2 linked regions of the Homo sapiens genome follow. The protein of the gene in region 2 purifies or fractionates together with the protein of the main gene of each other region. This does not show direct contact. Each region holds a gene or a part of one and is shown on either strand. Other genes may lie near its edges.

Region 1 (5,330 bases), on a different chromosome or scaffold from region 2:
AAAAAGAAAATTAGCCAGGCACAGTGGCATGTGCCTGTTGTCCCAATTACTCGGGAGGCTGGGGCAGGAGAATTGCTTGAACCTGGGAGGCGGAGGTTGCAGTGAGCCGAGATCGCACCACTGCACTCCAGCTTGGGCGACAGAGCAAGACTCCGTCTAAAAAAAAAAAAGAAAGAATCGTATAAAAGAATGTACATAATTATTTGAAAAGGTGATTGAACTCTCCTCCCTTTTCCAGTTACATATCTATGTGAGTCTAGGTTTTCTTCATGTACTTCAGTCAAAACAACCTATCATGACAGACTGGAGAAGCAGATATGAAAATCCAGCTGACTTCTTGAGGTTGGGCATGGTGGCTCGCGCCTGTAATCCTAATCCTAGTACTCTGGGAGGTCAAGGCAGGCAGATCACCTGAGGTCAGGAGTTCGAGACTCGCCTGGCCAACATGGTGAAACGCCGTCTCTATTAAAAGTACAAAAAATTAGCCGGGCATGTGGCGCATGCCTGTAATCCCAGCTACTCGGGAGGCTGAGGTAGAAGAATCACTTGAACCTGGGAGGTGGAGGTTGCAGTGAGCTGAGATTGCGCCACTGCACTCCAGCCTGGGCAACAAGAGCGAAATTCCATCTCAAAAAATAATAAAAGTACAAAAATTAGCCAGGCATGGTGGTGGGTGCCTATAGTCCCAGCTACAAGGGAGGCTGAGGCATGAGAATTGCTCGAACCCGGGAGGTGGGGGTTCCGGTGTGTCAAGATCATGCCACTGCACTCCAGCCTGGGTGATGGAGTGAAACTCTGTCTCAAAAAAAAAACAAAAAACAAAAAACAAAATAGGGTCTTACTCTGTCACCCAAGGCCGGAGCACACTAGTGTAATCATGGTTCACCACAGCCTAGACTTGGACCTCTCAGGCTCAAGCAATCCTCCCATCTCAGCCTCCCCAGTAGCTGGGACCACAGGTGTGTAGTACCATGCCTGGCCAATTTTTTAGTTTTTTGTAGACACAGAGTATCACTATGTTGCCCAGTCTGGTCTCAAACTCCTGGGATCCTGCCTCAGCCTCCCAAAGTGCTGGGATTACAGGTATGGCCCACCTCGCCCAGCCACTACAGATATTTTTAAATTCCCTAAGCAGCTAATATGATAAAATAGTAGACAGATTCATATAATATATAAGACTACATGTACAAAATAATATAATTTCACGAACTAATTCCTCTTCAAATAGGAATGCTTGAATTTCTGTAAATTAAATGAGTACATATATGTGTACTCCACCACATACTCATAGAGATTAGAGAGTCTTCTATAAATGAAGCATAATATACATGTTTCATAACAGATGATTACTTTCAGGATTTTTGCTTATTTAAACGTGTTCTCAGTCATACAATAGAGAGTTGCAGGCCAGGTGTAGTGGCTCAGGCCTGTAATCCCAGCACTTTGGGAGGCCAAGGCAGGCAGATCACTTGAGGTCAGGAGTTCGAGACCAGCCTGGCCAACATGGCAAAACTCCGTCTCTACTAAAAAGACAAAAATTAGCTGGGCATGGTGGTGTGCACCTGTAATCCCAGCTACTCGGGAGGCTGAAGCAGGAGAATCGCTTGAACCTGGGAGGCAGAGGTTGCAGTGAGCCGAGATTGTGCCACTGCACTCCAGCCTGGGCAACAGAGTGAGACCTCATCTCAAAAAAAAAAAAAAAAAAGAGTTGCCGTTAGAAGACAAGTGACCTCTCGATTAGCAACTTAAAATTCTATTTTGCAGTCTGACTCTTAATTGAGACAATGTAGCATATTTACCATACTTTTAGTGGAAATAACCTAAATTCAAATTCTGCCACTTACTAGTCTGACATTGGGCAATTTCCAATGTACCTGAACCTTGGTCCTTCATCCGTAAAAATTGAATACAAGTAGTACCGATCCCAGGGGATCGTAATGAGGATTAAATGATGTGTATGTCAACAGCCTACTATGGGGACTGATACTTAGTAGGCACTCATTTACTAATATTAGTAACTTGTGTTCACTTCCCGCTGGTGTGGTGTAATGTTTGCAGAAGTTTTTGCAGTTTTAAGTATAAAATCTGAGACTGGGAGGTGATCCCCTTTGGCCTTTCATGTGCCCTTGCTAATTCTACAGATCCCTTCCCATCCCTTCCCCCAAATATACACCCCAGTGATAAGCAGAGCTCTATCTTCCACGTCCTTTCCAAAAGCTCCAGATAACATCAGAGCCCCTATACTGAACAATTTGTCTGATTCTGAGAAGGGGGTTCAGTAGATCTCGGGCCTAGGTCCGTGTTCTGCCCCTAATTTGACCACGTGATCTTGGACAGGTTACTTAATTTCTTCAGTGAGCCTTGGGTGTCCTCAGTCGCAAAAGGAGTAGCAGCTTCAACCACTCCCAATATCCCTTCAGATTTTAGACTGGGAAGAAACTGTCCACGCACCACAAAGATTAAAAGCGCCTGGTAACCCCTAAATACTCTCCCCAAACCCATTTCAAACGTCACTGCTTCCGATGTCTGGACTTCTTGGCATTTCGTACAAATCTCAAGGGTCCATGCTGGCCCCTGCGCCCTCACGCGGCTAGGACCTCACATTTCTACGTCGCGGGCGCCCTACCCTCTCTGGAGCTGGGTCCATATCCCCCTCCCAAGAGCGCTGCAGTAAGCACTGAATGAAATAACGGCCCCGCCTGACAGAGCCCAGCACAAGGCAAATGCTCAAGAGATGTTGGCTAATATCAGCAGTCAACGGATCCCGCGCCCTCCTTGAGCCTCAGTTTCCTCAAGAACGTAATGAGGACGGGCATAGACAATGCTCAAAGCCCCCAGCAGCGGGCGGAGGGTCCCGAGGCGGGCCTAAGGGGCGCACGCTGCGGAAGGCAGGGCAGCCCCGGAAGCCGGGCGGCCCTGAGAGTCCCGGGTCCAGCCCGGCGCGGAGATGCGTCCTCTCACCTCCCGGGCTCAGCAGCAGCTTCAATGCCTCCAAAATCCGATCCAGACCGCATGTCTCCTGAGCCCCGCTGCCCACGGCCTGTCGGGCCGCCATGACTGGAGTGTAACACCACGCTCGCGACCCGCTCAGGCGCCTCGGCAGGGCGCCGCCGCCGCCATGTTAAGTGTGGCAGAAGGCTCTGGGCACACTATGGGGCGGGGCCAAATCGATCGGGAACGCCCCCTTCACATTTTTTTTCCGTCCCGGCTTAGTCCGGGGGGTAAGAGGGAACCCAAAAATGGCTAATCTGCCCACGCGCACAATTTCAGAAGCTCAATATGATTAACCGCTATGTAAAGAAGGAAGAGAGAAGTAATGTATCATTAAAGCTATATTTCAATATGAAAATACTCAGGTACTCAACACTGGCAGACATAATGAAGCAGACAGATGCTTCCATCTGCTTACAGTGAAGTATGGATAAGAAAAACAATATTCAGGCTGGGCGCGGTGGCTCACACCTGTAATCGCAGCACTCTGGGAGGCCGAGGCGGGCAGATCACAAGGTCAGGAGTTTGAGACCAACCTGTCCGATATGGTGAAACCCCGTCTCTACTAAACATACAAAAATTAGCCAGGCGTGGTGGCGGGCGCCTGTAGTCCCAGCTACCCGGGAGGCTGAGGCAGGAGAATCGCTCGAAGCTGGGAGGTCGAGGTTGCAGTGAGCCGAGATCACACCACTGCACTCCAGCCTGGGCGACAGAGCGAGACTCCATCTCAAAACAAACAAACAAACAAAACCTAAGTACAGACGTACACACGCATATATATCCATCGTGAATGTAAAGCTACAAATGTTGTTATGGGTAATATGATTTTTTTTTTCAGTGAACTTAGTAAAGTTCCCAGTAAAAGTTCGATCTGTGTTCTGTTTTCATGGTTGATGCATTCCTCGAAAATTCAGGGTCTATCAAAACCATGCCCTCCGCCAAACTGTTTTTATATGTAAAACAGAATGGATTTGAGATTCAGATTATCGGAAACAGGTTTTCACCTACATAAATCCTGGTGGGACGTTGAAAAACCATGTTGTCTGAAAGTCATGCCGCAGACACAGGACAATGTTTTTGAGGGCAGGACCTTTATTTTTATTTTATTTTTTGAGATGGGGTCTCGCTCTGTCGCCTAGGCTGGAGTTCAGTGGCGTGATCTCGGCTCACTGCAACCTCTGCCTCCCAGGCTGAAACAATTATCTGGCCTCAGCCCCCCGAGTAGCTGGGATTACTGGAGTGCCCCAGCATGCCCGGCTAATTTTTGTATTTTTTGTGGAGACAAGGTTTCGCCCTCTTGGCTAGGCTGGTCTTGAGCTCCTCACCTCAAGTGACCTGCCCACCTGGGCCTCCCAAAGTGCTGGGATTACAGGCGTGAGCCACTGCGCCCGGCCCAAAGGACAAACTTCTTAATGGTCCGGTCCTTGGGCGAGAATAAGCTGCGCATAGCTATTACCCTTTTTGGCATGACTCTTGTTTCTTCTTTTCTTTGTCATTTTGGAATGCAGGGCCTGAGAGGGAAAAACGCTAAAAATTTTTTTTTAGAGATGGAGTCTCTATGTTGCCCAGACTTGTCTCAAACTCCTGGCCTCAAGTGATCCTCCTGCCTCAGCCTTCCGAATAAAATCTTGTGTGTGTGTGTGAGACAGAATCTCACTGTCACCCGGGCTGAAGTGCAGTGGTGTGATCTTGGCTCACTCCAACTTCTGCCTCCCCTGCTCAAGTGATCCTCCCGCCTCAGCCTCCCAAGTAGCTGGGACTACAGATGCATGCCACCACACCCGGCTAATTTTTGTAGAGATGGCGTTTCACCATGTCACCCAGGCTGGTCTCAAACTCCTGGGCTCAAGCAATTTGCCCATTTCGACCTTCCAAAATACTGAAATTGCAGGCGTGAGCCACCGGTTCTGGCCTTAAAAATATTTTTGAATGGGAAATAAATCACCTACAAAATTGCCACTGTGCTCTTTTTATTTTGTGTATTCCTTTCCAGGTTTTGTCATTAGACAATGTTTTCTCCATTGTGTATGGGCACAGGTTCATTTGGGAAATAAAAAATTTTAAGAGTATTTTGAGATGTTAAACATTTAGTGAGACGGGGGTAAAGCACTGTGTGGGGAAGGCTTGAGGGGTTTGGTGCAAAAGTACAGGTAGAGGCCCTCACGCCGCCAGCCTAAATGTTTCAGTGTTAGAAATCAAGCGAAGAGACTGGTAACTAAAATATTTTCTATCCTCCTACCTTGAAAATTCTATCAAGTTTGAATTCAAAATTCTCAGACTGTCTCAGAGCTCCACAATGGAGACCTCTGGTCTGACCCATTTTTCTTCTCACCAGCATC
Region 2 (4,694 bases):
GGGACGTGCTGACCTTACAGTGTTCTGCCGTGTAGGCTGGAAGCCGTGGGCCGTTTCTGGTTAGTGCTGGCTTCCAGATAAACCTGGTGGTGGGTGGCGGGAAACAAGGCTGGCTGAAAAAGCAGCCTGAGGCTGGCTAGCTGGGTCCTAGTGGAGGAAACCACTCAAGAGGACCTGGCCCTCGGGGCACTTTCAGATGCCAGAGTTGCCTTTAGGGCCTTCTGCATACTGGCCTCTGAGTGGCATCTGTGAGTGCCTGCCTTGTGAGATCACACCTCCTCAGATGACCATGGCCTGGAGCCTGCCTTCTTCTCGGAACGTGGTCTCTTGCTTCTCTCTTCTCCTTGCTCTCTATGCTTCTAAATGTCCCTGGATTTCTCCCACCCTTAAGCCTTTGCTCATGCTGGAGAACCATTCCATTTCCCTTCTTCTTCTTGGCTAACTGTCCTTTGTCCTGCAGACCTTGCTTCCTCCAGGGAACCTAGTCCTGCCCTTTTGCCCCTGCCCTCCTCAGTGTTCTCCCAGGGCCCTGGCTGACCTTAGTTAACATATTTAGCACACACATAGTACTTACCTGCTGAGAAGCCTGGGAGCCACCTCAAGGCAGGGACCGTAGGGTACATCTATGCCTCCAGGCCCAGCCTAGTGTGGGGCACAGAGGTGAAGGCGGGATATGCTTAGAGATGACAGATGAACAGATGAAAGGGCTCGTGGTGGGAAGGTAGTTGGATAACTGTGATGGTTTTCTGCTGTCTACAGTGAAATAAGGATATCATACTTTTTTAGGTCTCCAACAATGGCTGGTGGGCTGTTTGCTGTGAGTAAGAAATATTTTGAATATCTGGGGTCTTATGATACAGGAATGGAAGTTTGGGGAGGAGAAAACCTCGAATTTTCCTTTAGGGTAAGTATTTCAGTCTTCTCTTTGGACATGTTCTTAACTGATTCTCTCTTTGGGAACGATGGGATTTGCTGTAAGAGCCTGGTGGACCCTGAAAGATGATGACACGCATATCCTATAAACATGCTTGCTTTCTTGTTTTAGCTTTTTAAAAAGTGTACTTTTTCTAGATTTGGGGCCAGCAAGGGCCTTGCGAGTCACATAGTTCTCTCTCACTCTATGGAGAGGAGGAAATGAAACCAGGAGAGAGGTGACTTGCTCAGGGTTAGGTTCCTCCTGATCCTGTCTTCTGGAGCCTTTACTTGATTAATTCCTTATGAAGTGGCCTCTTTATTTAGCACAGTGCCTTTCAAACTTTGACAGATGTAAGAATTTCTTTTTTTTTTTTTTGAGACGGAGTCTCGCTCTGTCGCCCAGGCTGGAGCGCAGTGGCACGATCTCAGCTCACTGCAACCTCCGCCTCCTGTGTTGAAGTGATTCTTCTGCCTCAGCCTCCCGAGTAGCTGGGATTATGGGCATGTGCCATCATGCCCGGCTAATTTTTGTATTTTTAGTATAGACGAGGTTTCACCATGTCATCCAGGCTGATCTCAAACTCCTGACCTCAGGTGATCCACCCGCCTTGGCCTCCCAAAGTGCTGGGATTATAGGTGTGAGCCACTGCACCCAGCCAACACATGTAAGAATTGCTGGGTAAACTTGTTAGAAAGACAGATTCACAAGCACAATCTAGAATTCTAGCTAGATTTGATAGCTTTAGGGTGGGACCAAGATTCTGCTTTTTGTAACAAGCCTTCCTACTGATGCTACTCTACATGGCCCGTGAAAACCGTATTGGAAAACTCCTAGCATTTCAGTAGATTTTCCAGTTAATGAAGTCTTACATTTTAAGCATCAAAACTTTGTGTAAATGTTGGTGCTTTTCAGTGGAAAATTAAGATTTTTAATAATATTTTATATGGTGTTCTGCCCTCATAAAAACTGAATAAACAAGAATTTGGCCTTCTACCGAGGACTCACGCCCTCTGTAATAAGTACCAGATGCTGTGCTTGGTTGTCCCATCTTTGGGAAAATGAGATATTCAAGGCTGTCAGTCCCAGTGTGAGATGGGCTCAGATGCCTTCGCCTGTTGAGTCTTTGGGTGTGCTTTTAATGGTCTCTCTGCCTCTTCCTTAGGTGTCAGGCTGCTCTACCTGTTTCTAGACGCTCTTCCTTTCCCCCTTCCAAACCTCTTTTCTTCCTTGCTGCTTTCCTATCTTCTGTGGCTAGGAGATCAGGTAATCAAGCCTGTGTTTTCTGTAATGAGTAAGTGGGTTGCCAGCGAGGTCTCTGTGGATGCTCCTGTGAGTCAAGTGCATGAGCTTTAGTGCATGGACTTTGGGGTCTTGGTTCCCACAGCTTATATGTTTTGGGGGCTGCTTTCTTGCTCTTTACCCACATTCTGTGTCATGAGTGTGCCGGGTAGGTGGCCTCCTGCCCGATGGAGGCTGAGCATCTTGGCAGTGTCCATCATGCCTTGCGTGTGCCTGGCCTCTTTGCTGCAGATACTATGGACCCGCAGCTCATCCCCTGCTCACCACCTGGCCTCTCCTTTTCTCTGTGTGCAGATCTGGCAGTGTGGTGGGGTTCTGGAAACACACCCATGTTCCCATGTTGGCCATGTTTTCCCCAAGCAAGCTCCCTACTCCCGCAACAAGGCTCTGGCCAACAGTGTTCGTGCAGCTGAAGTATGGATGGATGAATTTAAAGAGCTCTACTACCATCGCAACCCCCGTGCCCGCTTGGTGAGTTCCTCGGCCCACCTGCACTCCATCTGGCTTCATCTGAACAACAGCAGCTAATCGTGGCTTCCCCAACATAGTCGATCTGGTTCCAGAAATAGAGAATAAATTGGGTGCTCAGATACGAGTAAGGGGAGAATTTATTCCTCCATTTATAATAATTATATGCAGTCAAATCTTCTTATTTACAGCTGTTATAGTGCATAAAGCCACCACAAATGCTGAATTCATGAAAACAGAGCCATTGTTCTTAGGGGAAATACAGGGTTAGGTTCCTGCCAGACTTGGGGCACAGTTTTGTCAGCAGATCAATACAGAACCTTGTTTTCTATGTGTTTCTGTTCAAAGACACCTGTTTAACATATATCGTTGCATCATTAACATTGCACTCATGGCTAACAGCACGGTAACTCATGCCAGAATGAAGCTTACCTAGCACGTGTTATTTTCTCTTCATCACAACCTTCTTGCATTTAGGAACACTAGGTAGCACTTCAGCACTACGACTGGGGGACATTCTAGAATAGCTGGTGCAGTCACCAATACAAAGCAGGAAAAAATGTGGTGCCCAACAGATGGTGAAAAGAACACTGGTTTACAGGATGAGAGCTGAAACAAGAAGGCGGTGTGTGCCCTTGTTATATATCACCTGGAAATGGGAGTTAAGTGTTGGGCAACTCAAATTTTTTGTCCATGAATGTGTGTGAAAATTAGAAAACACCACAAGTATTGATTTGGAGGTTACAAATCAATTTTATTATAGCATGTAGGGAAATTCAGATACAGAACCAGTAAATAATGAGGATGGACTGTACCAACATAGATAGTTGGGGATACCTGGTGTCACAGGCCAGGCATTGTCCATGTGTTTTGGTTTTCCTCTTTGTAGCCAGTAGGGTGAGTCCACAAACACAGGGTACAAGTTAAGGCACAGTTCTTTACCTTAAAGCTATTGCTCAGGGACACATCCGCCTTATTAGTTAGGGGTCTGTTACCTCCCTCTAGAGCCTTCTTGTTAGCACCCTGGAAGCTTCCTTTTCTAAAACAGGGAGTCTGTTCTGCTTCCATTTCCAGATGGAAGGACTACTGGAGAGTGGCCCAGGCCCCCGCTGCTACTCTTTCTCACCATATGTCATGGTCATGGAAACCCCCCCACCGCCAGCCTAACAGATGTCTATCTTCCTCCCCACTCAGAGGCCTTGCTGGGCCCATCTCTCTGACCAATGGTGAAGGTGTGCCTGCAGTCACTGAAGTCTCAGCTCAGTTGGCTTGCTCCCCTGGGTCTCAGCCACACACTACAGGGACACTGGCCCATCCACCCACTGCACTGAGTCTGTCGGAGGCTGAGGTTCAGCCCAGACTGTGTCCTTCCTCATAGCGATTTATCTCAGGGACTTGTTTTCTGGTCCGGATCCTTGCTCTGCCTCTACCTCCGGGACCATTGTGGATGAGGGATCTGCCTCTTCTTTCCCAGGTCTTGGGCTTCAGATGAAACACAGTCCACTGCCTCTGCCCCAGCCAGCTCTGCATGCTCCATGGCAGGGTGCCTGCTTGCCCTGCATTTGCATAACTAGTAGGGCTGCTTGGCAATACAAGAAGGTCTTGCTCTAAGGCTTCTCATCAGGCCACTTCATGGAAGTCTCTTCTGAGTCCTTCCAGCAACCCTGCAGGGTAGCAATAAAATTCTCATTTTATAGATGAGAAAACTGAAGCTCAGAGAGACGCTGTTGGAAGGAACTTGTCCAGGCCCTGTGGCTGATAGGAGGTAGAACTGGGCTTGGGGCCTGTACTCTGCAGCGCACCTCTTGCTCTGCTCTGCAGAGCCCATGGGTTCTCAGCTGGACTCCCACTCAGCCCCTCTCTGGCTCTGGGCTCCATGGTCATTTGCTTCTGCCTCCTCCGTCTTGCCCAGCACCATAGAGTAGAAACACCCACTCTTTCCTCATGCACAGTCTGGAACCCATAGTTCCCTTTTCCTGAGGGTTCCCAGAGAATATTTTAGGGGGGCACT

What was found. Proteins that work in one complex are often made in the same cells at the same time.
Region 1: the proteins of GALNT12 (region 2) and TANGO6 purify together in Homo sapiens (affinity purification with mass spectrometry; one large-scale study listed by BioGRID and IntAct). This does not show direct contact.

The regions. Positions count from the first base shown.
Region 1 is NC_000016.10:68,841,343-68,846,672, reverse strand, and holds the start of TANGO6 (transport and Golgi organization protein 6 homolog), read right to left. Parts: upstream 3,143-5,330; 5' UTR 3,056-3,142; coding exon 2,962-3,055; intron 1-2,961.
Region 2 is NC_000009.12:98,834,463-98,839,156, forward strand, and holds part of GALNT12 (polypeptide N-acetylgalactosaminyltransferase 12), read left to right. Parts: intron 1-786; coding exon 787-904; intron 905-2,509; coding exon 2,510-2,686; intron 2,687-4,694. UniProt on the Homo sapiens protein: Catalyzes the initial reaction in O-linked oligosaccharide biosynthesis, the transfer of an N-acetyl-D-galactosamine residue to a serine or threonine residue on the protein receptor.